Homo sapiens: one gene and its partners. The protein of the gene in region 1 interacts with the protein of each later gene in a biochemical or structural test. Each region holds a gene or a part of one and is shown in the gene's direction. Other genes may lie near its edges. The genes, in order: AFAP1, PRKCE, PRKCB and PRKCG.

Region 1 (7,874 bases):
CACAATGGCCACTATAGCTGCAGATATCACACCCATGTTCATGATCATAATCCCTGCTGCTGAGAAAAAGACAGCGTCTGCTGTGTCTTTTCCTTTTCCAAGAGAGCAAAAACTTCCCTCAAAATCAGGGGTGTGCTGGTATTTTGGGGGAGAGGAGGGAGAGGGAAAGTCCTGATTTTTAACAGTTGCCAATTTCTTTATAAGTTCCCCTACTATGTCTGATTTCAAGCTACCACCATGACATTGCTGACTACGGCGTTGGAGAGAGAAGTCAGCAGCACACCATGATTTAGGATTTCCACCTACTGACGCGGGAGATGCAAATCTTTAAGAACATAGTAAGAGTAAAACAATCAGGAAATAATGCATTTTGATGATTTATTATCTTTGTTTTATATTTATATTTACATTTAATTATATAAAATTAATATATAATTTTATAAAATTAATATATATAATTATATAAATATCTAACATAGGCTGGGCACAGTGGCTTACACCTGTAATCCCAGCACTTTGGGAGGCCGAGGTGGGCAGATCACCTGAGGTCGGGCGCTTGAGACCAGCCTGACCAACATGGAGAAACCCCATCTCTACTAAAAATACAAAATTAGCCAGGTGTGGTGGTGCAAGCCTGTAATCCCAGCTACTGAAGAGACTGAGGCAGGAAAATCACTTGAACCTGGGAGGTGGAGGTTGTGGTGAGCCCAGATCACGTCATTGCACTCCAGCCTGGGCAACAAGAGTGAAACTTCATCTTGAAATAAATAAATAAATAAATAAATAAATAAAAATACATATTTATGTATAAATATATAATTATATACATAAATGTATATATTAATATATATTTATTATATATTTATTAATATATAAAATATGTTTATTTATTTCTGAGACAGGGTCTGGCTCTGTCACCCAGGTTGGAGTGCAGTGGCACTATCATAGCTCATTGGAGCCTTGAACAGATGGCTCAAGCGATCCTCCCACCTCAGCCTCCTGAGTGGCTAGGATTGCACGCACACACCACCACGCCTAGCTAATTTTAAAATTTTTTGTAGAGACAGCGTCTTCCTTTTTTGCCTAGGCTGGTCTTGAACTCCTGGGCTCAAGTGATCTTCCTGCCTCAGCCTTCCAATGTGTTGGGATTACATACGTGGGCCACTGCACCCGGTCTAATGCATTTTTTAATTTGCAAGTTTATATTATTTAATATTTTTAAGTACTGAATGTGTTGAACACCAACTCGCAGAATTCCCGAACAATGGACGGTCAGCTCTCATGTTCTGGTTCAAACAGCCCCAGCACACCACGGCTAGAAACCTGTCAGCCAACTTCCACTTATATCTCCCTGGGCAGGACAATGTTGCTTGGCCAATCCCCACTAAGAGGAACTCTGGAAAGGCAAGAAACTATTCTGTTCTCTATAATGGAACGTGACCAGGGAGAAGGCAGCTGGCAGGGCCAGTTGGGCCCTCCAACCAGCAGCATCCACCATCGACCAACTGCCCTAGAACTTCACTGTGCTGGGCATTTGGGGCACTGTTATGAGTAAGAGTTTTCATTTTTCTTCTCATGGGGCCTTCATGCAAGAGACAATTTTTTTTTTTTTTTGGAGACAAAGTTTTGTTCTTGTTACTCAGGCTGGAGTGCAATGGTGCAATCTTGGCTCACTGCAACCTCTGCCTCCTAGGTTCAAGTAATTCTCCTGCCTCGGCCTCTCGAGTAGCTGGGATTACAGGCATGCACCACCATGCCTAGCTAATTTTTGTATTTTTAGTAGAGATGGGGTTTCAACATGTTGGCCAGGCTGGTCTGGAACTCCTGAGCCACCATGCCCAGCCAAGAGGCAGATTTTAAATCAATAAGTATAGTTGTGATGAATGCCAGAAAGAAGAAAGTGTGTGATGGGGAGGGGACCTACGTTATTGTCTTATATTTTAACACTTTCATAGGCAATAACTAAAAACTTAGAAGCTTAAAACAACACACACATTTAACCCAGTTTTGGCAAGCGAGGAGTTGAGCACATTTTAGCAGGTCCTCTGCTTGGGGTCTCACGCTAAGGAGCTGGGCTACATCCTCATCTGAGGCTCAACCAGGGCAGAATCCATTTCCAGGTCCACTGAGGTTATTGGCAGAATTCATTTCCTTGGACCCGCTTGGCAAGGGCCCAGCTTTTTGCTTCCTTGCTTACGGGGCCCCTCCAAAGGTCCTTTCTCAGCATGGCATCTCCCTCCTGCAGGGCCTGCAGGTGGAACCTCTCTCTCTAGTGTGCAAAGGTGATGCACTGTGACAGTGACATCCATTGCTTTTGCCAGAGGCTCTGTGGGTTAGAAGCCAGTCACAGGTTCTGCTCATACCCAAGGTCAGGAAGATTATGCAAGGGCATAGGTCATCGGTCACTGGGGGGGTTAGTCACTTTAGGGTGTGGCTGCCACCACTGAACTTGGTGAGACTTTAAGGGTTGGTAGGAGCTGGCCAGGTACAGGGGTGAGGGTGTGTTAGGCAGCGGTGAGGGCATGGAGGGGGATGCAGAGGCCTGCACCCTGGAATGTCCTTTCACTCCCTGAGGTTGTGTTCTCCTGATCCCTGAGTACATCCCAGAACACAGTGGGGCCCTAGCTGGGGAGAGGTAGGGAAGCATGTGATGTTCATCGGGGGACCTTGTTAGGCAAATCAGATTAGGGGCCAGGCTTTCAGTGGTGGGTGCGAGTGTGCAAGTGAGTGAGTGTGCAGGTGTGTGTGGGAAGGGAGATGGGGATAGGGTCAGCCCCAGCCATCATCAAGACCTCACCTGTGCATCCACCCATCCCAGCAGCATCCCTGAGTGAGTGCCTTCAGGGCGCAGGTCCTGTTTTGCACATGGAAGTGAATCAGAGTGGGACACTGCCTTGCCTTAGAGAGGTCACACTTCTTTTTTTTTTTTTAACTTGTGATAGAGTCTCGCTCTGTTGCCCAGGCTGGAGTGCAGCGGCGTGACTTTGGCTCACTGCAACCTCCGCCTCCTAGGTTCAAGCAATTTTCCTGCCTCAGCCTCCTGGGTAGCTGGGATTATAGGCACGTGTTACCATGCCTGGCTAATTGTTGTATTTTAGTTTCACCATATTGGCCAGGCTGGTCCCAGACTCCTGGCCTCAAGTGATCTGCCCCCCTTGGCCTCCCAAAGTGCTGGGATTACAGGCGTGAGTCACTGCACTGGGCAAGAGGTCACACTTCATGCCAAGTGGGAGGCAGCCACTCAGACAGCACCCCAGCTGGCGCTGGGAGTGAGGGGTGCTCAGCGTCCTAGGAAGGCAGAGGGCTGCGTGAGAGGTTTGGGGAGGAAGGACTGGAGGAGGATTTGAGATTTTCACCTGAGCAGCTAGGTGGATGGAGGGGCTGTTTACTGAGAATCACAAGAATGTGGATGAGCAGGTTGGGGCACTGATAAAGCACTCTGTTTTGGCCCGCAGAAAATTTGAGATGCCTCCCTGGTGTCCAGCTAGGCCTTTGGGAGAGGTCAGGGCTGGGCATCTGACTTGGATGGATGTCTCTGGCAGGCAGCAGAGCATGTGGATGGTTTGTGAAGCCCAGAAGGGCATGAGATTTCCTGTAGCAGTGCCCACTGTGAATGGAAGGGCATTTGGCCTGAGCCCAGACATGTACAAGTTGGGCAGAGAAGGGGGTGGGTCCCTGGGACCCACAGAGGAGCAGCTATGGAGGTACAGAAAAACCAAGTGTGTGGGGGTCACATGATGCAGGAAGCTCAAATAAGATGAGGAAAGAGGTTTTAAAGATGATCAGGGTTGGGGACAGTAGTTCATGCCTGTAATCCCAACACTTTGAGAGGCTGAGATGAGACGATAGCTTGAGGCCAGGAGTTTGAGACCAGCCTGGGCAACATAGGGAGACCCCATTTCTAGAAATAAATAAATACATTGGTACTTGGCATTTCAGGTGGGGAACAGCAAACACGTGAAAGCTCTGAGGCAGGAAAGCGAAGTGATTAGTGCTTGCTTGCTCCTGGTTCCTTTATCAGGCCTTAAAGAGATGCAGAGACATCTCAGGTACTCCTTGGCCGAGCTCCTTCAGGGAGGGCCTAAGTTCGCTTCTACTTCACATCTTTAAAAAAAAATTTTTTTTTTGGAGACAGAGTCTCACTCTGTCGCCCAGGCTGGAGTGCACGCAGTGGCACGATCTCGGCTCACTGCAACCTCCACCTCCTGGGTTCAAGCGATTCTCCTGCCTCAGCCTCCCCAGTAGCTGGGACTACAGGTACGCGCCACCACAATCGGCAAAGTTTTTGTATTTTTAGTAGAGACGGGGTTTCATCTTGTTGGCCAGGCTGGTTTCGAACTCCTGACCTCAAGTGATCCACCTGCCTCGGCCTCCCAAAGTGCTGGGATTACAGGTGTGAGCCACCGTGCCCGGCCCTACTTCACTCCTAACGCCCGCCATACGTGCTTCCAAATGTTTGCTGAATGACTACAAGATGAACGAGTGAATGGGATTACGTTTCTTCGAGCGGCAGGCAATCCTATTCCTTGGACCTCAGTTTCCCTTTCTGTAAAGCAAGCCTTTCTCTCGCTCTCTGCCCTAAAAGCCTGAGCTCTGGGTTTGAGATGAGCGCGTCCTGTAGAGCCGACTCCAGGTAGACGTTGAGCTGGGTATTCTAGGAGGCGATGATCGGGCCGGCTCTTTGAGGCGGGTCCTCCCGCGGGACCCCGCAAGCCCAGTCCCAGCACCGCCCCGCCCAACCTCCCTTTGTTCCCTCAGGCCCCGCCCACTCCGCGCAGCTCGCTTCCCATTGGCCGGGGGGCGGGCCCTGGGCGCCCGGCTCCGCTGGGGGCGGGACGGCGGGCGGCGGGCGGGGCCGTGTGCGCCTGCGTGGTGTCTGTCCCGGCCGCAGCCCCACGCCGGCTGCAGCTCCGCGAGCCGAGCCGGATCTCGAGCGGGGTACACGGGCTGAGGCGGCGGCGGCGGCCCCGCCCCGGGGCTCCATTGTTAAGGCGGCTGCGGCTCTGTCGGCTGTTCAGCTGCGCTCCAGTCGGCCCAGGCGCCGCGGCGAGGAGCGAGCGCTGCGAGGTGGCGGCCTGAGGTGAGACGGCGCGACTGGCGGCAGGGTCTCCGGACCCGGCGGGGGTCTCTGCCCCGGGCGTGGAAGCTCCGAGCGGGGCTCCGCAGGGTCCGGGGTCCGTGCGCCTGGGCTTTGTCTCGGCCTCGGGTGGTACCGGGGGCTCCGCGCCTGCTGCGACGCCGCGTGGGCCCGCGCGGGGGTCCCGGTCGTCCTGCGGGTGGGGGCCGGTCCCCACTGCTCCCCAGCTCCCCGCGTCTGCCCGGAGGGGACTGCGTGGACCCGGGCGCTGGCTCCTGCCCGGTGCCCCCGCGGCGTGGCTGGTCCCCGTGTGCGTCAGAGGGGGCCCTGCGAAGACCCACTCGTGGGGCGGGGTCCGGGTCACCAAGAGTGGGAGGCTCCGCCGCCCTCCCCCGTAGCGAGACTGCTTCGTCCGACTTACCGAGGGGACTGCGCGGACCCTCGGACGAGGGGGTCCGTGACTCTGGATGGGGGCTCTTTCTTGGCCCCGCATGACGGCTTCCTGAGTGTTTTGTCACCTATAGGTTGTTGCGTGGACCCACGCGCGTGGGTCCCGGCCGCCCTGCGAGTGGGGCTCTGCGCCGCCCCGTGGCTCGTCTGGGTCGACCCCGCCTGGGACGCGAGTGTAATGGGGGTCCGTGCGCGGGGGGCGCGGTTGGTGGGGGCGCACTGCCCCGCCCCGTGATTTATCCTCTCACCTGCCCGGCGGGTGGAAGCGAGAGGCGCGGGCCCGGAGCTGTCGCGCAGCGGCCGCACCGTCCTCTCCCCTGGCCGGCGGGCCCCGGGGGGCGCGGGGCTGTCACCGCGCGTCCCACCGCCGCGCTTCCTGCTCTGGCCCCGGGCTGGGCTCTGATTGGAGGGAGCAGGGCCCTACTGCCCGGAGCTTCTTGATTTCTTCCGTTAGTAATGGGAAGAAAAAAAAAATCTGGAAAGCCAGATTGAACTTTGTAGCTCTCAGCGCCTGGAGAGTGGAAGAAACTCTCCCAAGAATTTGGCGGGCTGGAAAATGCGTTTCAAGCAGGAGCATCCACACCCACGGAATGAGGCCAAGGCAGTTACAGTTAGAGGTCAGATTTATGAGGGGAGAGCGAGGGTGAGGTCCGTGGGTGGGGAGACTCCGACCTCAGCTTGATGGGAAGACCTGATGCTGCCCCTCAGACGCTGTATTTCTCAGCCACCAAAGAAAGTGGAATCACTCCTTAGTGAATGCTTTCATCAAACTTTTGAAAAACCTGTTATGTCCCAGGAAGCAAAATCGAACTGGACAGTTTTCCCCTTTTAGGAGAGTTAAAGATCCCGGAGACAAACAGCAGAAGGCTCAAGGAGTCCAAATACCCAACCTGAAGTTCTTTCTGAACAAGAGATGGTGTTTAAGTAACAGGCATACAAGACAAAACTGAGCTAATTACCGCAGCTGTGGCTCCTAGCCCTCTAGCGTGTCATGCGGGCCCTTTTGCTTTCTCTGCCCTCCGCTGCCCCAGACCCCCACTCTACGCCGCACCTCCAGTCATCAGCTCATGCCGACCCATTGCTATGGACTCTGTTGAGGTGGCTCCCTTCTCTCTGAAGCTTTGCTTGTTCTCCTGAAGTCCTGGTCTTTAAGAGCTTATGATCTGCCAGGACAGATTGGCTTTGGGTAATACATGGTTAACTGTAGCACAGCTTGAAAAATGCTCTGATAGAGGTGGGCAGGCGCAGTTTGTGCATGCGGGTAAATGCGAGCTCCTTTTTCAATACCATGAATCCAAGTATTCATGCTATTTTAAATCTGCAATTCTTTGACTCTCCAGAGGGTTTTTAGATTAATCTTTTTCTATTACTTCCTAATGTTTGTTGCATAGTGCAGAGTACTTGATTAAAACTTAGCAGGTCGGCCGGGCGCGGTGGCTCACGCCTGTAATCCCAGAACTTTGGGAGGTCGAGGCAGGCGGATCATTTGAGGTCAGGAGTTCGAGACCAGCCTGGCCAACATGGTGAAACCCCGTCTCTACTAAAAATACAAAAATTAGCCGGGCATGGTGGTGGGTGCCTGTAATCGCAGCTACTCATGAGGCTGAGGCAGGAGAATAGCTTGAACCCAGGAGGCGGAGGTTGCAGTGAGTTGAAATAACTCCACTGCACTCCAGCCTGGGCGATAGAGTAAGACTTCGTCTCAAAATAAAAACAGAAACAATGTACTGGGTCTACGTCCGGCTCTGGAATTTTCCTGGAAGGCCTTCTCTTCTGGGCTTCATTTTTCTCACCTTTGAGGATCGTAAACTACATAATTTCTAAGAATCTTTTCAGCCCTACACCTTTAATTCTTTCAAGCAAATATAGTAGAGAAAAATTCTCTTACCAGCAATGGTGTAAATAACGGAAGCCTTTGAAAATGTGGATTCTAAAGTGGAAGTTTCTTTTCTTCTTCCCCTTTTTTTCCTTTTAAACAAGTTGAGTTACATGTGTATATACTTTATCTCAGAGTTAAGGACAAGTATCTATGATGAAACCTTAAGCAACTTTTTGGCAATATCTTTCATATTCTTCATAATTGTTTTATGTGCAACATCTTCACTATATCCAATTGGTTTGTTTTTTTCTCATTAATGGAGTTGTTGAGCTCAGATCTTTTTTTCAGGAGCATTTTGTTGATCTTTTAAGTGTCATGTGAAGTATGTTTCAACCTAACATTTTATTTTGGAGAGTAAAATGGGAGTAAATGGAATTTTGAGAGTGCCTTGAGTAGATGTACTTGGCTTTGTGTAATGGTTTGAAGCCTAGTTTAAAATTACCACTTGTGGCCAGGTGTGGTGGCTCA
Region 2 (7,026 bases), on another chromosome or scaffold:
GTGAATTAGGTATGGCAGGTATTGGACAAACTAAAAAACTTGAGATAGAGAAGCCCAAAGTCTGAAGGATGAGTCAAGCAGTGGAGCAGGTTCAGAATGCCCATCTGTTTTCACCAGAGGATGCTGTAGCCACTCTGGTTCCTCCAGGCTGAAGGTGGGGACTCATTGGCAGGGGTGACTGGCCCCTGGAAATGGAGACAAGTTGCAGCTGGGCTAAGTTCACCTTTCCCAGTCTTAACATTCAGGGTAAACCCATGGTTTCATAGCTTTGGGTAGAATTCCCTGGGCTCAGGTCTCTTCACTCCTTACCTGGCAGGAATGAAGAAACACACCCTTCTCAGGTGTGGCTGAGAGATCTGGCCTGAAGTAAGGGGATGTGGATAGCATAAAGCAGCCGTTTCTCTCATTTTTGCGGAACACCGAATTCTGCCGCACTTTGAATTCACTTGTATTCCTGGAGTTCCTGTTTTGTGCTCATGTCTAACCAGGGAAGCTTCTCACTGTGGGCCATCCAGAGGAAAATGAGGCCCTGGGTTACTCTCAAGGGGCTTCCATTTCACCAAGGAATTGACACCAAGTACCCACATATACATCAAGCTTGTCTAACCCATGGCCTGTTAGCCACATGTGGCCCGGGATGGCTTTGAATGCAGCCCAACACAAATTTGTACACTTTCCTAAAACGTTATAAGTTTTTTTGCATTTTTTTTTTTTTTAGCTTATCAGCTATCATTGGTGTTAGTGTATTTTATGTGTGGCCCAAGACAATTCTTCTTCCGATGTGGCCCAGGGAAGCCTAAAAGTTGGACACCCTGATGTAGACACTTAACTAGCAATTAGGTTCCACACAGGTGGTACCATTAGTGTGTTAAGAGTTTAAAAAGGGAGTGTGGGCTAGGCACTGTGGCTCATGCCTGCAATCCCAACTACTTGGGAGGCTGAGCTGGGAGGACCGTTTGAGTCCAGAAGTTCAAGATCAGCCTAGGCAACGTAGTAAGACTCCATAACTACAAGAAACTTAAAAATTAGCCAAATCTGGACCTGCGGTGTGGTGTGTGCCTGTAGTCCCAGCTACTCAGGAGGCCAAAGTGGGAGGATTACTTGAGTCCAGGAGTTCAAGGCTGCAGTGTGCTATGATCTGACCATCAGGCCACGGCATTCCAGCCTGGGTGACAGAGTGATACCCTGTCTCTTGAAAAAAAAAAAAAAAAAAAAAAAAAGGTAGGGAGAACTGGAAGAATCCAGGAGGGTTTTTGGAAGGAGGCATGAGCTGAGTGTGAAACAGTAGGTTATATTTAAAGAGGTATCTACAAGAAGGAGCAGTGTTCCTGGCATGGCCACCGCAGGAATAAAGGCAGACAATCCTGTAGTCAGGGTTGGAGAATGGATGAGCAGGACAGAAACTGAGTGTACCTGTCAGAAAGGAGTGGGCAGGACAAGGTTTCCCAAATTTAAGACTTTTTTCTGAGTACTGCCTGTGCTTTCATTTACTTAATATTTAAAAAATTGATTCTTTTATTTTCCACGTAGTCTTTTCTTAAGCCCCACTATTCATGAAATCACAGGTTTGGAGCATGTAGTTATAACTTTTCTTTGTTCACATTAAAATAAACAGGGCTCTACAATACAGAAACAAAGTTCATTCCAAGTGCCTCTGAACATCATTAGTGATGTGGGGCCCACACTTCGGAAACATTGGAGTAGGAAAAAGTTTAGAAAACTGAGGTGAATTCTAGAATGCGTAAAAGCCAAGCTGAGATAATTATTCTCCAGATAATGAGAGATGTTTCAGTTGTGATGACAAAGGAGGTTGCTTTAGAGAAAGCTCATTACAAAGAGAAGGAAAGATTTTGCTGATGCTTTGAAGTAAAATCTATTATAACACTATTGCTATAGCTGGGTTTTCCAAGAACCAGTTAATAACGCTACTCAGACTTTCATGTACATAAGAATCAGTAAGGGAGGGCATATAAAAGATAGATCTATATAGATTTATATAGATCCATATAGATAAAAATATAGATCCTCTGGCCCAACCTTGAGAGCTTTTGATGCTACAATTTGGAATAAGCTGGGAATCTACATTTTTAACCAGCTGTCCCAGAGATTCTGACCAGACCAGGCTTGCTTTGAGAAACATTGGGCTAGAATAGAAATTGCAGGCCAGAGAGGGCTCCAGATAATTAATGGATCAAGCATTTTTACATAGATATGTCCTGAAATGTGACTGTATAACTTTATAATTTTTAAAGAAAGATTTAGAATAATAATTGTGTGAACTAGAAGTATTGGGATTCATGTTAGAAGCAGAGGCTGAATGAATGCTGGATGGATTGGCATTGCATTTAGCACAGGGGTGGGAGGCAGGCGGAGCAAGGATTAGGGCTTGAAGGGCTGCATGCAGGTGACAGCTAGCTGGCTCGTTCACATTTTGGATTTTTCTCTATCATTGCTTCAGTAGTCTACACACTGAGCTCAGTTTCCTCTTTGTTCTACTGCCCTGCCTCTGAAGACATCTTTGGCGAATGTCACTCCCTTGCTGTATTCTGTAGAAGAGGCAGGCACTCAGAATCCAGAGGTACAGAAAGCCATCATTTGAGAGGTGATTCCCCGGAGCAGCGAAGTCTGGAGTCACACTGCTTGGACTTGAATCCCACTTCTACCATCTACCACTTTCATGACCTTTAGCGAGTGACTTAACCTTCCGTATTTCCATTCCTTCCCCTGTACAAAGTGGGTGATAATAAATATACCTCCCTATAATGAAATGGGTTTACTGTGGGGATTAAAATGAGTTAATACATGTACAATGCATACACCAATGCTTGGTCCCTAGTAACTGCTCAATGCATATCTACTATAATTATTATTATTATAGCCCCCAAAATGAGCATGGGGCTGGCCTAGAGAGAGTTTTTGACTGAATTGATTATTATATAGGCCACGAGAAAGCTAGGTTTTCATATTCTCCAAAGTAGCTCTCTTCAGTCTGGCCATCTCATTTGGCAAAGAATGGGACACTAGAAGTGTCATTTCTGGTTTGTATTTCCCAAGTAGCCCATCGGCAAAGCTTTTCAAAATGATGGCACCCCTGCTGACTCTGGGAGATAGGCCTATACCCTGTTTGGACTCTGGGAGATAGGCCTGTACATCATTCGGAGAGGTTAGGCTCTGAGGCCGTTCTCCCTTGGCCCACCAGAATCACTTGGGGGAGATTCATGCAACACAGATGCCAGGGCACAGCCTCTAGCAGTGCTGATTCTGATGCCCCGAATGGAGCCTGAGTTAAGCAGGACCCCTGCTGCATCTCCTACAATGGCAGCCTGACCGCACTTTGATATATGTTACTCTAGAGCACATCTCTATCTTCAGGACATTTGTAGGAAAAAATTTTTTAAAAGGATTTCTGAAACCTCCATTGTCATTTAAACACAGTGGGGTGGGAAGGGACTACTAAGGGGGTAAGGAGGTAGGGAAGGGCTGGCAATTGTCCATACCTCCTTCGTGTGCGCCTATACCCTGAATTATTTCCCCAGCAGCCAAGGGTCCCTGGATCTCCCTTTCCCCTACTCCCATAATACCATGTAATCCAATATTGCTCTCATTGGTCCATAGCTGGTTGTTTAACAACTACCCAAAGGATTCATTCTTGGCCCAGTGCTATCACAGACAACCTCTTGGCATTGGGTCCCTAGAGTTAAGGACCTGAGTTAGCCTTCAACTTCATGGACAGTCAAGCGTTGTTTGAACTGTTTCTTCTTCTTAGTGTCTTTGACCAGCAGCAGATTTAGTGAATATTTGAGACCCTGAATTCCCTGGCTCCTCAATGGACCGCTCTCCCTGGATTCAGTGAGTTCTAACTGGAAGGCATCTCCACCACTCACTAGTTGTGTGACTTTGAGCATGTGACTTAGGCTTTTTAAGCCCGTTTCTTCATCTGTAAAATGGAAATGTCGTAGGTCTTGACTTTCAGAGTTGCTATGAGAATTAAATAAGGAACTATAAAGCTTGTAGCAAGTGGTCTGGCTATAATACATTTCAGCAATTTTATTAATATTTGAAGAGTCATTTGTGTGTTCATAGTTTTAGAATCTTAAATCAGAACATATGGTCCAGTGAAATATATTTTTCTCCTTGATTTGTGAATGTATTTATATGAAAAGTCTTACATACTCTAAAAATAAATTTGACTTAGTTATACTTAACAAATTGCCCTTTGGAAGATAATAGAATTACTTGAAATGAGATTGTTCTGGAAAGTCTAGAAGCTGCGGTCATTGTAGACAAAGGTTAATTATTTATTGAAGAGGTATGGGTAATTGGAAATGAGGATATTTGGGAGCTGGTGTTTTGGTTTTACTGTGCCAATGTCATCTAGTTTCATGGATTTAAATACACTTTCAGTGCTGTTGACACTAAATTCCTAATTCCAGCTCATGCCTGACCCTGAACTCTAGACTTTATATATGGGATTGCCTTCAGGTCCTCAGCTTTCATTGTGTAAAGGGCATCTTAAACTCCATATGCCTAATATTGTATACCTATTTTCCCCTCTCCTCAATCTAAGCCCTTCTTCCTCAGCTTAAGAAATGGCAACTCCATCCTTCCAATTACCCAGCCAAAAACCTTGAGGGGCCATCCTTGACGCCTGTAATTCTCAGGTGCCCCATATCTTATCCATCAGCAACATCTGCTCTTTCTGCCTTCAAAATATATCTCAGATCACATCCTTTCCATACCTTTGCTGACCTCACTTGGGTCCAAGTCACTATTATCTCACACCTGGATTATTTCAACAGCCTCTGAATTGCTTCCACCTGTCCTGGCTTCTCAGCTCCTGTCTCTGCTCACAGATCTCTCAGGTGAGATTATCCCTTACCATAATTTACAAGACCAACAAAGTCAGGCCTTCTGCTGTGACCTCTCTGACCCTATCACTTGCCACTCTTCTCCCTGTTCATTCCTCTCTAGCTATCCTGACCCACTTGACACCCCTTAAATGCACTTACCATGCTCCTGCCTCAGTCTTTACCCTTGCCATCCCATTTTTTTAGAATGCCCTTTTCCCAGATATCCACATGGCTCAAGTCTTCGCTCAGATGTTATGTTCTCAGTAAGGCCTTTTCTGGCAATCCTATCTAAAAGTTCACCCTCTTATTTTATGCTTCATATGCGCCTTTCCTGCCTTTTTTTTTTTTTACTCTTTACTCTTACCTCTATCTGATACGCTATTTAGTTTTCTTATTTATCTTTGTTGTTTATTTCTAATACCAGAACACCAGACGCTCTATAAATGTAGAGCTTTTTGTTCACCGCTTTATCTCAGCACCCAAAACAGTGCCTGGCACTTTGTTGAATGAATGAATAAATTGTTGAATGAATGAATAAATTTCTTGGCACATTGTTGAATGAATGAATGAATGAATGAACACAAAACAAGTGTGTATTTCTATAGTACCTACTATGGTCTAGCACTGTTGGTAGATATGGGGTTTGGTAACACAAAAGTTGTGTATGTGTAGTTCCTGCCTCTGAGGAGCATGGCATCTCGATAGAAACCAGTTGAATGAATTTCTTAAACAATCCTTCTGTACAGTTGAAAGAAGTGAGGAGGAGGAGGAAGGAGAAAAGGATATTTTATTTTATAAAAATCTATGAGATCCCTGAAGATGTTCTTATGAGAGAATGCTATATTATTTCCACATAGCAATTTGCATCAAGCTGAAGAATCTCCGTCAAGTCTGAATTTCCCAAAAGTAGGAATTTTCTACCCTCTGAGTGCCCAGGGCCCATTCCAGGTGCCATGGTGAGGGAAGAAGAAAAAGGCCCACTTGTCCTCCATTTGCAGAGTTTAAATGAAGTTCAAATTCTCATCAGGGCTTTAGATACAAAACCCTTTGTAGTTGGCAGCAACAAGAAACGAAATTTCAAATTCCGGCGCCTGAACTCATAGAGCTATTGAAGCATGTTCAGACAAAGCTTCCAGGGGTTTCACTTAGGCTAAAATAACTCCAGAGCAGGCCTGCAATATTTTACATAAATAAAAGCTACACTTGGCAAAACATTATATTTCTCTCCAAGTTCCTCTGGGTATATATGGGCTTGTTAGTAATTACAATCTATTATAATGCTAATCAGCATGGTTGCACCTGTTTGAGATTTAGTTTTCTGTCAGAAACCATGTGAAGTGGCCAAAAGTCTGTACTGTGCTGGGAGAACCAGGAGGACAGGAACATACAATTCATCGTAACTCACTGACATCTAAACAAAATTGAAACTCCAGAGGAAATATAACTGAAATCTGTAATACTGTGCTGGGGAAGAGGAGGAAAAACAGAAGCCTATCATGAAACCCAGATGCTGAAATGAGGATCTCCTCTCTCCTCATCCCTGACCTCTACCCCACCTTGAAGTCTCAAAGAGGTAGTTTTATGTTAGTGAAAAGTCACCTGTATTTGCCAGCAAGGAGTAGACTCACTGAGCTCCTGACCCCAAGAGATAGATAAGACTAAAAATGTAATCAAGCTTAAGAAGAGTTTTTTAAAATTTGAGATGGAGTCTTGCTCTGTTGCCCAGGCTGGAGTGCAGTGGCATGATATCGGATCACTGCAACCTCTGCCTCCCGGGTTCAAGCGATTCTCCTGTCTCAGCCTCCCAAGTAGCTGGGATTACAAGCATGAGCCACCACACCCGACTAATTTCTGTATTTTTAGTAGAAACAGGGTTTCACCATGTTGGCCAGGGTGGTCTTAAACTCCTGACCTTAAGTGATCCACCCGCCTCAGCCTCCCAAAATTCTGGGATTATATAAGAGAAGTGAGCCACTGCGCCTGGCTTCAAGAAGAGTTTTTTTTGTTTTGTTTTGTTTTTTGTTTTTTGTTTTTTTTTTTTTTTTTAGAAGGAGTCTCGCTCTGTCGCCCAGGCTGGAGTGCAATGGTGCCATCTTTACTCACTGCAAGCTCCGCCTCCCGGGTTCACACCATTCTTCTGCCTCAGCCTCCCGAGTAGCTGGGACTACAGGTGCCC
Region 3 (7,981 bases), on another chromosome or scaffold:
TCTTCCTTTAGTTCTTTGAGCATCTTCAATATAGTTGCTTTAAAGCCATTGTCTAGTAGGCTCACCTTCTGATCATTCTCTGGGACAGTTTCTGTTGGTTTATTTTTTCCCTTTGAAGGGGCCATACTCCCCTCTCTCCCTTCCTCTCTCCCTGCCTTCCTGCCTTCCTTCCCCTCTATCTCTTTCCTTCTTTCTCCCCCTGTCTCTCTTCCTGTCTTTCTTTTTTGAGATAAGGTCTCACTCTGTCACCCAAACTGGAGTGTGGTGGCACAATCATGGCTCACTGCAACCCCCAACTCTCAGGTTCAAATGATCCTCCTGCCTCAGCCTCCTGAGTAGCTGGGACTACAGGTGTGGACTACCTGTCTGGCTAATTAAAAAAAAGTTTTTGTGGAGATGGGGTCTCACTATATTGCCTCAACTGGTCTCAAACTCCTAGACTCAAGTAGTCTTCCCACCTTGGCTTCCCAAAGTGGAGGCATAAGCCTCCACCACACCTAGCCTTTTCTTGTTTCTTACTATAGGTTTTTAGTTACAATTAGTAGCAGTTCTAAGTGATCTTGAGAGTTGCCACATTTCAAATGCTCAGCAGCCACATGTGGGTACTGTGACAACTGTGTTGAAGAGTGCAGCCTTAGAACAAAGGGATTGAGGCCGAGCGCGGTGGCTCATGCCTGTAATCCCAGCACTTTGGGAGGCTGAGGCGGGTGGATCACCTGAGGTCAGAAATTTCAGACCAGCCTGGCCAACATGGTGAAACCCTGTCTCTACTAAAAATACAAAAATTAGCTGTGCACGGTGGTGCACGCCTGTAATCCCAGCTACTTGGGAGGCCGAGGCAGGAGAATGGGTTGAACCTGGGAGGCGGAAGTTGCAGTGAGCCGAGGTCGCATCACTCCACTCCAGCCTGGGTGACAGAGCAAGACTCTGTCTCAAAAAAAACCAAAACCAAAACAAAACAAAACAAAAAACAAAAGAATAAAGGGGTTGAGAGGCAAACTACTGTATCCTTGTCCTACCTTAGAGAAGAGGAAAATGAGACACAGGAGGAAGTAAGTGACTTGCCCAGGGTTATGCACTGTAGTCATTTAAATGGTAGCCCCCAAGAAGGTACATCCATGTTATAATTCCTGGAACTTGTGAATGTCATTTTATTTGGCGAAGGGGTCTTTGCAGGCATAACTATATTAAGGATTTTGAGATGAAGAGATCATCTCGGATTATCCAGTGAAGCCCTAAATCCAAGGACCAGTGTTCATATAAAAGATATACAAGGTATAGGGCCAGTGCAGTGGCTCACGCCTGTAATCCTAGCACTTTGGGAGGCTGAAGGCAGGCAGATCACCTGAGGTCAGGAGTTTGAGACCAGCCTGGCCAACATGGTGAAACCCTGTCTCTACTAAAAGTACAAAGATTAGCCGGGCATGGTGGCGGGTGCCTGTAATCCCAGCTACTTGGGAGGCTGAGGCAGGAAAATCACTTGAACCCGGGAGGCAGAGACTGCAGTGAGCCGAGACCATGCCATTTCACTCCAGCCTGGGCAACAAGAGCAAAACTCCATCTTGGAAAAAAAAAAAAAAGAAAAGAAAAAAGAGATATACAGGGGATATTAGAGAAACAGAAGGGGTGAAGATAGGCACACAGAGGAGAGGGTGATATAAAGACAGAGGAGGATGGGAGCGATGTGACCACAAGCCAGGGAAGCCAGGGAATGCTGACAGCCTCCAGAAGCCACAAAAGGCAAGGAAGCGTTCCCCTCTGAAACCTCCAGAGGGAATGTGGCCCTGCTGACACTGTGACTTATGGTTTCTGGCCTCCAGAATGATGAGAGAATAAATTTTTGTTATTTCTAGCCACCCTGTTCTGTTATAATTTTTTATGGCAGCCACAGGTCTGGAGCAAAGGGACCTTGGACTCCATTCTCAGCCACAGCAACCTGCCCCCTCACTGCCTCTGAAATCTTTCAAGTGACCAGCATTCACTCCTTCATGAGCAGAGTGGGCCTGGGGGGCTCTGGTGGCAAGGAGGACCCATGCCCAATCTACGGGGAGCTGCTGCCCTGCAGCTCCTGTTGGCACTATGCCATGTTGCCCTAATCTCTTGCCTGATCTGCTCAGTTGACCTCTTCACTGCTCTTCCTGCCTCCACCCTTTCTCCTCTAATTTCCACATAGTAGCTAGGGTAAGCTTTTAAAATGAAAACCCCATAAGTTGTATCAGGCCACTCCTCAGCTTCCAACCCTCCAATGGCTTCCATTCACTGGAGTGAAATCCAAACTCCTTATCACATTTGCAAAGCCCTTTGGGGCCCTGCTACCTCCCTGACCTCATCTCATAAGTCCTCTCTCCTCTCTGTTCATCCAACCACTGAGGCCTTCTCGCTATTTCTCCAACATACCAAGCTTGATACTCCCCTAGGCTCTTTGCATTTTCTGTTTTCTCTGTCTGGAAACTCTCGATAGTCCCCTGGCTCACCCTCTCACTTTATTCAGGCCTTACTCAGATGTCCCCATATTATAAAGGATTTCCCTGTGGTCTTTATAATAATGCTTTATTTTTATTTACAAACATTCTATTATACACCACCAGGTATGGATTCGTTAGTTGGTTAGGTTATTACTCCCCCTTCCCCATTAGACTATAAGCTCCACTAGGGCAGGGACCTTTGTCTGGTTTGTTTAACAGTATCTGGAACAGCACACAGTAGGTGCTTAATAAGCAATTTGTTGATTGAAAGAACAAATGTATGAGTGAGGGAGGAATGTAGGCTCCATTTAGCTCTATCTTTTTTCCTAGATAAGTCAGAATCTGGATATTTAAGTAAAATTCTATGACCCGTGAACTTAAAAAACAACAACAACAACAACAACCCACTGGGCTAGCTTAAAAAAAATAGAGCATCTGGAGCCACCAGTTTGAGACCCTGACCTACAGGAATCTGGGTCCAATGGGAACCACATTTCTCATCCTCACTTGGTGCAACGCCTTCAGGAACCAAGTGGCTCTTTTCCATCCACAGCCCTTGCATCCCCAGGCCCCGGCGCCATGAGGTACTGTTTGTTGTTACAGACCAAAGTCATCCAGGGCACTTCATTCAAAAGGCAGGATGTGGGCTGTGAGCTTCCAGCTCATCAGTTCAAAGGAAATCTACTTCAGCAGCAATGTCTCCTGGGATGTTTTCCCAAGCCTCCCTGGGAGGTGGTGGGGCCTCTTCAAGGACTAATAATAGACAGGCACATCCAGTTTCCCAAACATGTCAACCTTAAAAGTGAATGCTATTTTTTCCTCCTTACCTTTGAATTACTATGTAGGAGAGGGACATTCTATTATTGCAGCCCTTGCTCTCGACATGCTACCTAATAATGACTTACCACTCAGCAGCTTCCAGGCAAAATTGTCATAGTGGGACCTGAGCTCGTGCAACTCCAGCCTGCCCCCCTTCATCCACCACTACTCAGGTTCACCCCTTTGTCACCAGGATGCTTTGTAGTCAGGCCAGCCCAATCACCATTCAGCAACGGTATGACTGTGGGTGTATCTTAATCACTCTGAACCTCCCCATCCTTATCCATAATGAAAGTTACCAGATCTACATAGGGTTGTTGCGGGGGCTAAATAAGACAGCACAAGTACCTGATGCCCAGCAATCACTTGATATTTATTATTAAACACCTACTGGGTGTGAGTGGGGGTAAGAAGTGCCGACCTTTAAGTCTTCATTCATTCACTTGTTCATCCATGCCCTCACTCAATCAACCAATATTTACTGGGGTCTTGGGAGGTGTCAGGCACTGAGCTTGGTGCTGGGCGACATGGTGGTGAACAGCCCCCCTGCTCTCACAGAGCCTAGGTCTGGTGAAGGAGCTCACAGCCTAATGAAGCTCTGCGTTCCCAGAGTGGGGGACATGGTGGCAGTGGGTATCTTTAGGCCTTGTGCATGAACAGGGCGCTAAATAACATTGAATTACACATTGTAGACAATTATTACCCTTTCAGTTACCTTCAGATCACATCAAGGAGAGAGTCCTGGTTGGATAGTAATGTCTTTAACACCCCTCTAGCATTTATTAATTTCCTCTCTTAACAAATAAAAGATGACTTCAGTCGAAGATGCTTAGGACAGATGACGGCACCTGGAGATATTTTAATAATGTAGATACCTCTTGCTGTTCAAACTCAGACCAAAAGAGATAGGCTTTTTTTCCCCCAGAGGGTGCACAAATACGACCAGAATTTGTGAAGACGAGTCAGAAATGAATGAAATTTGGAAAAATATTGATCTACTGAAATCCTTCCTCCCCACACTATTAGCCCTATGTTACAGTTGGGGAAACGGAGTCGTTTTGCAGAGGGGATGGACAGAAGGTAGGGAGTTCTCTTCCAAACGTGCAGGAGGCAAGCAAAGCCAAGAATCTTCTCTGTGGTGGAGTTAGAGACATATAAAATAAAGATCGCTCCTCCCCTACCTCTGCAGAACGTGTGTGTGTATGTGTGTGTAAGTGTGTGCGGCCACAAGCCTTTCCGAATGAGTGACAGCGGGAGCCCATCCCTCCAGGAGACGCGTGCAGAATGACCAATGGGATGGATGGGGGTGGATGGGTACCAGTCTCCGCAGAGGCCGGGGTGGAATTCGCTGCGCCCCACCCCTTCCACCCGCTCCCCTTCGCCCCGTAGGTCTTTCCACTCTCGCTCCTCCCCTGGGCACATCTCCTGAACGCAGCCCCGGGGGCCGAGGACGGGGTGGGGTGGGGGGCGAGGCTCGGGTCCGACGACCCCGGGCTGCGGTCCCGGCGCTGCAGAGCTGCGGCTGTGCACGCTTAGCCGCGAGGCCCGCGGTAGCCCGGGCGCCGATATGTAAAGCAGCTGGCAGCGCTGGGCGGGGCCTGGGCGCGATGCAAATGAGGAGGGCGGGGCTGGCCCGGGGCTCCGCCTCCCTCCCCCGCAGCTGGGGCCAGCGGTGCCAAGCGCAGCTGGACGAGCGGCAGCAGCTGGGCGAGTGACAGCCCCGGCTCCGCGCGCCGCGGCCGCCAGAGCCGGCGCAGGGGAAGCGCCCGCGGCCCCGGGTGCAGCAGCGGCCGCCGCCTCCCGCGCCTCCCCGGCCCGCAGCCCGCGGTCCCGCGGCCCCGGGGCCGGCACCTCTCGGGCTCCGGCTCCCCGCGCGCAAGATGGCTGACCCGGCTGCGGGGCCGCCGCCGAGCGAGGGCGAGGAGAGCACCGTGCGCTTCGCCCGCAAAGGCGCCCTCCGGCAGAAGAACGTGCATGAGGTCAAGAACCACAAATTCACCGCCCGCTTCTTCAAGCAGCCCACCTTCTGCAGCCACTGCACCGACTTCATCTGGTGAGCGCGCGCGCGCAGGGCACCTTCCCGGGCCCCCGAGGGCAGCGCCGCGCCAGGGACCCCCTCTCCGCGCCCTCTGCGCCCTCCGCGCCCTCCGCACCCTGGGACCCCGCGTCTCCGGACTCCCGGCTCCGGACCCTGCTGCCCGGGACTCCCGGATGGACAGTCCTGCCGTTGCCCTGTCCCCACCCTGGTCCCAGACGGGCCGCCGCGGGGCGCCTCCTGCCCTCTCCTGCTCTCAGGCGCCTCTAGAGCGCCCAGGGGCGGCGTCGCGGGAGCCTTTGCTCCACCTGACTAGGAGCGCGCGGGGTCTGTGCCTGCCCTGGAGGGCAGCGCCTCGGGTGCTCTCCGACCCGGGGTTCCCTATCTCTCCGCCTGCTTCCGGGCGCGAGGAGCCCTCGCCCCCCACCCCTTGTTTCCGGGGGGGGCGGCGCCCTGGGTGTCCTTCTCTATCTCCCTGCGGGCATGGGACATCCTTTCTCACTCCTCTGTGCCTCCGGGCAGCGCCCTGTGTTATCTCCCATTGCCCCTCCCCGAGGGCCTGGGTTCCCCTTTCCACTCCTCGGTCACATCACTGCGGGCCCCTTTCTTCCCCAGTCCCTCCAGTAGTGGGGCATCCTTTCCTCCTTCCCAGTCCCCCTCCCAGAGGACACCACCGCCGCGGGGTCACTCTCGCCCTCCCTCTGAATGCGTCTTTATCTCTTCTCTTTTCCCGAGGGTGCTCGGGGCATCTATGGGTACATCTGTCGCCTGCCTTCAGCCCCTACCCCGACGGAAACGCTCCCCACTATCCCGCCACCTGGTGGTCGCAGCCTCCTCTCTTCTGCAGGAGTGAAGGCAGATGGGGGTTACAGCCGAGCTCCCACCTACCCCCACAAAGGCGGAAGACTCTTGGGCACCCGCCTGTGGCTGGGAGTTTGCACCTGGGGTACAGAGGCAGGGAGGAAGGCGGGTGACTCTGTGGGTAACTAGCTGGAGGCTGGGCCCCCCGGGCTGCCTGACATACACCTCCTTCTGCTTTTGCAGGGGCTTCGGGAAGCAGGGATTCCAGTGCCAAGGTAGGCTCTGGGGCTTTGGGGATGCTATTTGTGGGAAGAGAGGGTGAAAAATACTTTATAGAAGAAGTTACTGAGTTAGGCAGAGAGTGAAAGAATCACGTTGGTCGGAGTGACCTCCCAGGCTAGGAATTCTTCACCACAACAGGGTCCTTTCAAGGGGTGTGTGTGTGACTGGGGCCGATGGCGCTTGGGAGTCTTACATGCCAAGGAAGTTCACCTACCCTTCCTGCCTTCCCGGCTCTGGAAGAGTCAAAGCGGTCTCCTGAAGCAATCCTGGCATGGTCAGTTCCGCTGGGGGAGAAAGTGTTTTCCCGGGACGTTTCTGGGAGAACCTGTCCTCCTTAGTTCCCCTTTCTCTGCCCATGTCCCTTCCTTATCTCACCCAGGGAGGTTCTGCCTCTCCCTGCCTTGCAGAGGTCTCTGCAGGTGGCTGCCGCTCCTCTGCAGATGGTGCATCCCCTAGAAAGGCGACTGTGTTTGTCGCCTGGGCCTCCTCTCTCTCTGAAAGAAGTATTTCCAGAGGGAGTGTTTCTCAGATCCTGGTTTAAATCACCCTATCTTCTGGGTTGAAACAGAAAGGTCTCCAGGGCACTGGTTACCTGAGTTCTTGCATCTGGCTTGAGATCCTGGACTCTAACCAGGGGTATCAAACCTGCTGGTGGTGAGTTGATCACGTGTAAAGTGTCCCCCTCCCCCGTCTTTGGGGCTCATGTCTAAAAGACAGATTGCAAATTGGCTCTCCAGGACCAAAAGTTACCCGCAGCTCTGTGTAGCCCTTAGGGTGTCTTACTTGTGAATTTGATGTGAACGTTTTAGAACTGGGAGATTTCACATACACATCCTAATTTCCAACTTTAACTTTGCTGAGAAATGGTCTCACTTTCGCTTGAAAACAATCGTTTGGAGCTGAGAGCCGTCGTCGTAGATGGGGAACAGCCTTACCATTTTGTCTCAGTTGATCCCAGTGGGGAACACTTCACCCATTTCTGGCCCCTGTGGGCATTTAAGTTTGCAACCTCTCATCTGGAAAGTTTGTGTGTTATGTTTTCTTTTTAATTTAAATTTTAATTTTTCACTCTTGGGCTTGGTAAGATTGAGTTTGGTAAGAAACGGCACATTTCTGGGGTATTGTATCTTTAGGGGCAAAGTGACCACCACCCTGGTGAGCTGGGTTTAAATCAAAAGAAAGTATTTGAGTGTGGAAGAGTCTGACGTGATTTAGCACTGACTGACAGTTTTGTGGCTGCACCTCCACCCTCCAGGGAAAAGTAAAGTGATCCCTAGTGAGTGTAGGTGGCATCGTCAGTGGTGCAGAATGTTTGCTTGCTGGCAGCATGGCACTGTGCTCCTCTGAGACTCTTGCATACTCTTCTGAGATCGGGGTCCCGGTGGGCTCAGTGAGCCCTGCCAACCTACCCAGCCTGTCTTACCAAGATTTGGATCCTCTGCACCACACCAGAGGACTCCTCAAGTCTCTTTAAGTGGCAACAACTTAGGCCCTGGTGCAAACAAATTTGGATTGTTTTCTAGAACTTTGACCCCTCAAACAAAATGCCAATGGTGTCTTGGCACCGGAATGTGTAATT
Region 4 (7,026 bases), on another chromosome or scaffold:
ATGGCCTGGCCAGGTGAATGGGTCCTGCGGAGGTGTCGTGAAGCGGTTGAGTTCCTTGGGGGCGTGGCCAGGTGGATGGGCTCTTGGGGGGAGTGGCCAGATGCCTGTTTCCCTGGGGAGCTTGGTCTTGAGTGGCTGTAGCCAGTGCTCTGGAATTTTCAGCAAAGGGGCACAGTGGAGGAGGGTGCCTTCCTAGTGGGCCTGCCCAGAATTGGGCTCCGAGTGACGGGGTCATCACTTTTGGATTCTGACTGAAGGACACATCAGAAACAGGACATTATTTCCTTAGGATTGCGACTTAGGGGCAGAGAGTCAGAACCTGCAAGATTTTAAGAGGGCGTGACTTTACTTCCAGGGGCTCCGAATGAGAGTGGCCAGCCACCTGGATTAAAATATATGTATGAGCAACTTTGATTCCTTTTTTTTTTTTTGAGAAGGAGTTAGCTCTTGTCCCCCAGGCTGGAGTGCAATGGCGCGATCTCGGCTCACTGCAACCTCCGCCTCCCGGGTTTAAGCAATTCTCCCGTCTCAGCCTCCTGAGTAGCTGGGATTACAGGCTCCCGCCACCACACTCAGCTGATTTTTGTATTTTTAGTAGAGACCGGGTTTCGCCACGTTGGCCAGGCTGGTCTGGAACTCCTGACCTCAGGTGATCCACCCGCTTCGGCCTCCCAAAGTGCTGGGATTACAGGCGTGAGCCACCACGCCCAGCTGCAACTTTGATTCTTAGTAGGAAGCCAGAATTGCATCTGTGTGTGAGTGGCTGTGGAAAGAGATTTTGGTGTTCCCGGATTTCGAGCGAATGGTGGGCTTCAGTCTTCAATTCTGAGAAGGCGGGGCCAGAACACGTGGTCTGATAGTTGGCGGTGGTCTGGCGGGTGGAGATTCTGAGGTAGCAGGATTAGCACCTTAGGGCCCTCCCAGGGATGTGGCTAGGTGCTCTGAATTTCTGGTTGGGTGCATCTGGAACCTTCCACGTCTGTCCTGAGTGATCAGGAAAGAAATTCTCCTACTCTGGGTAGATGGATCCCGCCTCTAAGCCCATGCACTTCTCCGCAGGACCGCCTGTATTTCGTGATGGAGTACGTCACCGGGGGAGACTTGATGTACCACATTCAACAGCTGGGCAAGTTTAAGGAGCCCCATGCAGCGTGAGTCTCGGCCAACAGAGAATGGTCGGGGTGGTGGAAGGGGGCAGGATCCAGCCACTGACCTTCTGACGTCCCCACCCACCCCGTCCTCCAGGTTCTACGCGGCAGAAATCGCTATCGGCCTCTTCTTCCTTCACAATCAGGGCATCATCTACAGGTGAGCAGCCCCAGGAATTTCCGTGGAGGAAATCACGCCCCTGGAAGGGAAGGGATTTGAATATGTGGCTCTAGACTGCTGAACTCAACACTTCTTGCAATTCCTGCCCCACACCCCTGCATCGTCCAGGGACCTGAAGCTGGACAATGTGATGCTGGATGCTGAGGGACACATCAAGATCACTGACTTTGGCATGTGTAAGGAGAACGTCTTCCCCGGGACGACAACCCGCACCTTCTGCGGGACCCCGGACTACATAGCCCCGGAGGTAACCCCAACCCTGCTGCTCTGGTCACGCTTTGAGATCCCTTAGAGGGTGTAGCTGATGGTCCAGTATTCACCACGGGTGAGGCCTGACCCTCAGACCTTGTCATGAGTTGTGGCCTTCTTACACAGCCAGTCGTTCCTCCAGCCTCCAGCACAGGTGAGCTTGGCACTGAGCCTGCCAGGTGGGCCCAGCTGGGTCTCTAAATAGGTAAGGTGGGCAGCACCTGTGGGTGAATGTTCCAGGAGAGTGGGACCAGCTCGTAGGAATTCCAAGTAGGACCTGACCCTGGATCCTTCTGAGAAGGGGCAGACGATTTCTAGTGTACTCTGAGTGGGTGTGGCCTGTCCCCTGCCAACACTGAACATGTCCGGACTATCTTCTGAATACTTTAAACTGGGCAGGGCTCTCCCTGGAGTATTCAGTTGGATGGAAGCTTATTTCCTGTGTTGTACGTGTTTCTCTGATGTAAGTGTACTGGACTTCTGTGCTGCATTTTTCAAGAGGGCAGGATCAGCTGGGCGCGGTGGCTCACACCTGTAATCCCAGCACTTTGGGAGGCTGAGGCAGGTGGATCACTTGAGGTCAGGAGTTTGAGACCAGCCTGGCCAACATGGTGAAACCTCATCTCTAACAAAATTACACAAATTAGCCGGGCGTGGTGGCATGCGCCTGTAATCCCAGCTATTCGGGAGGCTGAGGCAGGAGAATCGCTTGAACCGGGGAGGCGGAGGTTGCAGTGAGCTGAGATCACACCACTGCACTCCAGCCTGGGTGACAGAGCATAACTTCATAACTTCATCTCAAAAAAAAAAAAAAAAAAAAGCCGGGTGCAGTGGCTCACACCTGTAATTCCAGCACTTGGGAGGCTGAGGCGGGCGGATCACAAGGTCAGGAGTTTGAGACCAGCCTGACTAACATGGTGAAACTCCATCTCTACTAAAAATACAAAAATTAGCCAGGCGTGGTGGCGGGTGCCTGTAGTCCCAGCTACTTGGGAGGCTGAGGCAGGAGAATTACTTGAACCCGGGAGGTGGAGGTTGCAGTGAGCTGAGATCGCGCCACTGCACTCCAGTCTGGGCAACAGAGTGAGACCCTGTCTCAAAAAAAAAAAAAAAAAGAAAAAGAAAAAGGGCAGGGTGAGATCCCTAAGGTTCTGGGAGAGCAGATGCTGTCCTATGAGTATTTTAAGTGGGTGGGGTATTACCCGACTTTGTTAAAGGGGTGGGGCTGATGTTCTGAATGTACGTATAGATGGATAAAGCACATGCCTGTAGTCCCAGCTACTTGGGAGGATGTGCCTGACTCGTGCCCAAATAATCAATGTCAGTGATCACAAAACCTGGCTGGTAATCAGAATCATCTGTAGAAAATTTGAAAACTGAGGCCAGACATGGTGGCTCATGCCTGTAATCCCAGCACTTTGGGAAGCTGAGGCAGGCAGATCACTTGAGGTCAGGAATTCAAGACCAGCCTAGCCAACATGGTGAAACCCCGTCTCTACTAAAAATACAAAAATTAGCTGGACATGGTGATGTGTGCCTGTCAACCCAGCTACTCAGGAGGCTGAGGCAGGAGAATCACTTGAACCCAGGAGGTGGAGGTTGCAGTGAGCCAAGATTGCACCACTGCACTGCATCCTGGGCTACAGAGTGAGACTCCATCTCAAAAAAGAAAAAAGATAAGAAAATTTGAAAACTACACACATATTCCTGACTCTGACACAAATATTCTAGGTGGGTGGAACCAGTGACTTGGCCGTTAGGTAGTCTTTCTATTTGAGGCCAAATGAATGTTTGAAGTAGGTATGCTTTGTTTCCAGAATATTCCAAAAGTTAGATCGCTGGCCAAAATATTCAGAGTGGAGGCTGGGCGTGGTGGCTCACTCCTATAATCCCAGCACTTTGGGAGGCGGAGGCAGGCCAATTGCTTGAGTCCGGGAGTTTGAGACCAGCCTGGGCAACATAGTGAGGACCTATCTTCACTAAAAGTGCAAAAATTAGCCAGGTGTGGTGGTGCACACCTGTAGCCCACCTACTTGGGAGGCTGAGGTAGAAGAATTACCTGAGCCTGGGAAGTTGAGGCTGAGTGAGCCGTGATCACACTACTGTGCTCCAGCCTGGGCAACAGAGTGAGACCCTGTCAAAAAAAAAAAAAAAAAAAAAAAAAACGAAACAAAAAATCACCTGATGAAATAAATATTCAGAGTGGGAAGAGCTTGTGCTGAAAGCACTTAACGTGGGTAGCGCTCCCAGGGGGTGAGGCCAGAGGGGTCCTAGGCTTCCTAAAGAACGCATCATGATTCCCTGCCTTCCACCTCCCCTAGATCATTGCCTACCAGCCCTATGGGAAGTCTGTCGATTGGTGGTCCTTTGGAGTTCTGCTGTATGAGATGTTGGCAGGACAGGTAAGGGAAGGTGGGGAGAAGCTGGCTTGGCTAAAAGAGACAGAGAGGGGCACCTGGATCTCAGGAGGAGCCAGTTAGAAAGGAGCCCAGAAGGTTGTGCTCGAATAGCGCTGTCCATGGTTCTGAAGTGTTGTCTTAATGTAGACCAGGTGTTTTGTTTTGTTTTGTTTTGTTTGTTCTGTTACCATGGATTCTTTCTCCCTAGATGGTAAAGTAGCAGTCTGGTTAAGCCTATGGATCCCTTCTCAGAAGAATGTTTTTCAATGCACAAAATAGAATAATACATACGCAGAAAACCAAGGTTCAAATCCTCACTTTGCCACTTACTGGCTGTGTCAGCTTAGACAATTACATACATTCTAAATCAGCTTGATTGGATTCCTGGACTGCTGAGTGTACTACAACTAAAAAAATTGGTTACCACACTCTTGATCATCTTCTTAGCTGGCTATGGTAGTGGGCACCTATAGTCCCAGCTACTGGGGAGGCTGAGGCAGGAGGGTCACATGAGCCCAAGAACTCAAGGTTACACTGAACTATGAGTATGCCACTGTGTTCCAGCACAGGCGACAGAGCAAGACCCCATCTCAAAAGAACAAACAAACAAAAGAAATCAATCATTTTGAAAGATAGTCACCAAAACTTTTAAAATTTAATTGAATCTAACAACCAACTAAATTCAATGTATACAGTTGTCTAAATATTTAAAATTGGAAAATGGACATATGTGCAATTTCTTATTAATTCATTAAGTAGTAAGTTCTAATGGTAGTAAAGTAAAAAGGAGCTCTAACAGTAATTTTGATGTAGCAATGACTAATAATTTGGAATATCTGCAACTCTCATGTGATGAGAAAATACCTGTGATTACTATTGATAATGAAGCCACAAGCACTGCTGCTGCCTGCATTCATAACTGAAGGGAATGCTAAATTTTAGTTAGAAGTTAAAAAAAAATTTGGCCGGACATGGTGGCTCACGCCTGTAATCCAAGCACTTTGGGAGGCCGAAGTGGGCAGATCACTTGAGGTCAGGAGTTTGAGACCAGCCTGGCCAATATGATGAAACCCCATCTCTAAATCTTTGCCTTGGTATCATTTTTTGTAACCTCAGAAGACTGTGAACTACTCATCCAACCAGGAGAATGCTTTTAGGGTGTTTCCTGCAGTTTTTCCTCTCTTCTATTTAACTGACATGTTGCATAATTAACAGCCTGCTGATTTACATAGCAGATAAAGAGAGGCAGAATAGTACAGAGATGCACAGATCTGAGGCATCCGAGATAGGAAATGAGAGAACCTGAGAAGGAGAGAGATCAAGCTTTGGTGGTTTGGTCTGATCTCTCCTGAGGGTGTGGTCAGGTGTGCATGTGGGGCGTGTGATGGGTCAGGCATGTTCCCGGTGGGGTGAGGAGGGTGTGGAAGGTTTGGGGAAAGGCAGTTGGGCATGTCCCTGACTCTCTATCCCCTCCACTTTGATAGCCTCCCTTCGATGGGGAGGACGAGGAGGAGCTGTTTCAGGCCATCATGGAACAAACTGTCACCTACCCCAAGTCGCTTTCCCGGGAAGCCGTGGCCATCTGCAAGGGGGTGAGAGCCCCCTGACTCCCAGCTTCTCCAGGCTCACAACCACACACCCCATTGCTGTCTCTGTGCCTATTAGAAAAATGCTCCCATTCCTGAAGTCACTTTACTTCCATCTGTTGGAAAAGTTGATATGATGCATAGGTTTTGTTAGAACAATGATTTCCAGCCCTGTTGCCACGAGGCCTGGAGATGGCCTCTGTCTCATCCTTCTCTGTGACTCCCACTCCCCAGCTCCCTGCTTGCAGGAAGTGCTGAAAGTCCAGGGTGTCTGTCTGTCTAGAACTGGGTGGGTCAGGTAAACCCAACTTCTGCAGCTTTTCTTCCTGTGTGAACTTGGGTGAGTCACCAAAACTTTGTGAGCTTAACTCTCTTCAGGGGTTATGGAGTTGACACAGAAGAAAGCACCTGGCCCATAGCAGATTTTCAGCCCATGTCAGCACCTTCTGCGTCTAGCTGCTCTCTCTGCATCTCCCTGACAGTCTCTCTGGTTTCTGTCTCATGCCTCCCCTCCATCTGCATACGATGGGGCTCTCTGTGTTTCTTCCTTTTCTCTGTGTCTCCTTCTGCATCTCTGTCTACACTTTTGGGCCTTTGTCCAACCCCCCTACCCCCCATCTCTGTCCCCTCCTGTGTCCACTCTCATACACACACGCTACATCTCACCCTCCTCTCCTGCTGGCTTTCTGTCCTCCCTTTTCTCTGGGTCTCTGTCCCCATATTTGGTCTTTATTCCTCCCTCTGGGTGTGTGTTTCCTGGGTCTCTATCCTTCTCTCTTTCTGAATCTCTGTCCCCCTGGGTCTCCTCTGTCTCCTCCCTTCTCTGAGTTTCTGCCTTCTTACCTGGGGTCTCTGTACCACCCTCTGAATTTCTATTTCCCCTTTTCTCTGGGTCTGCAACCTCTCTTCCCCCATTCCCTCCCTCTTCCCCTTCATCTCCTCTACCCTTCCCTCCCTCCCCCTACCGACCTCCCTCTGTCCTTCACTCTCCCCTTCCCTCCCTCCCCCTACCCTTCCCTCTCCCCGTCCCTCTCTCCCCTTCCCTCTCTCCCCCTACCCCTTTTCCCTCTCCTCTTCTCCATCTCCCTCATGATTTGTTCTGTTTCTCTGTGTGTCCCTGGGTCTCTGGGTATGAATTTCATCTGCTATCATTTTCATGTATCCTCTCCTTCTTCCTGTCTCTCTCTCTCTCTCTCTCACTCACTCTCACCCTCTGTCTCTCTCTCTCTCTGTCCCTCTTCCTCTCTCTCTCCTCTCTGTCTCTCTCTGTCTCGCTCTCTGTCTGTCTCCCTCCTCCTCCTCCTCCCTCCTCCTCCTCCTCCTCCTCCTCCTCCTCCTCCTCCTCCTCCTTCTTCTTCTTCTTCTTCTTCTTCTTCTTCTTCTTTTCTTCTCTCTCTCTCTCCTTTCTTTTCCCTTCCTCCCTCCATTTGCCTGTTTCCCCTGGCTGTTCTTATCTCTCCGGA

The links.
Region 2: the proteins of AFAP1 (region 1) and PRKCE form a complex in vitro, tested with the Homo sapiens proteins (one study listed by BioGRID).
Region 3: the proteins of AFAP1 (region 1) and PRKCB form a complex in vitro, tested with the Homo sapiens proteins (one study listed by BioGRID).
Region 4: the proteins of AFAP1 (region 1) and PRKCG form a complex in vitro, tested with the Homo sapiens proteins (one study listed by BioGRID).

The regions. Positions count from the first base shown.
Region 1 is NC_000004.12:7,936,862-7,944,735, reverse strand, and holds the start of AFAP1 (actin filament-associated protein 1), read left to right. Parts: upstream 1-4,874; 5' UTR 4,875-5,080; exon of another isoform or gene 5,081-5,735; intron 5,736-5,946; exon of another isoform or gene 5,947-6,083; coding exon of another isoform or gene 6,084-6,144; intron 6,145-7,874. UniProt on the Homo sapiens protein: Can cross-link actin filaments into both network and bundle structures. May modulate changes in actin filament integrity and induce lamellipodia formation.
Region 2 is NC_000002.12:45,654,652-45,661,677, forward strand, and holds part of PRKCE (protein kinase C epsilon type), read left to right. Parts: intron 1-7,026.
Region 3 is NC_000016.10:23,831,012-23,838,992, forward strand, and holds the start of PRKCB (protein kinase C beta type), read left to right. Parts: upstream 1-4,971; 5' UTR 4,972-5,164; coding exon 5,165-5,337; intron 5,338-6,363; coding exon 6,364-6,395; intron 6,396-7,981. UniProt on the Homo sapiens protein: Calcium-activated, phospholipid- and diacylglycerol (DAG)-dependent serine/threonine-protein kinase involved in various cellular processes such as regulation of the B-cell receptor (BCR) signalosome, oxidative stress-induced apoptosis, androgen receptor-dependent transcription regulation, insulin signaling and endothelial cells proliferation.
Region 4 is NC_000019.10:53,899,174-53,906,199, forward strand, and holds part of PRKCG (protein kinase C gamma type), read left to right. Parts: intron 1-1,059; coding exon 1,060-1,151; intron 1,152-1,245; coding exon 1,246-1,308; intron 1,309-1,437; coding exon 1,438-1,576; intron 1,577-3,899; coding exon 3,900-3,980; intron 3,981-5,461; coding exon 5,462-5,569; intron 5,570-7,026. UniProt on the Homo sapiens protein: Calcium-activated, phospholipid- and diacylglycerol (DAG)-dependent serine/threonine-protein kinase that plays diverse roles in neuronal cells and eye tissues, such as regulation of the neuronal receptors GRIA4/GLUR4 and GRIN1/NMDAR1, modulation of receptors and neuronal functions related to sensitivity to opiates, pain and alcohol, mediation of synaptic function and cell survival after ischemia, and inhibition of gap junction activity after oxidative stress.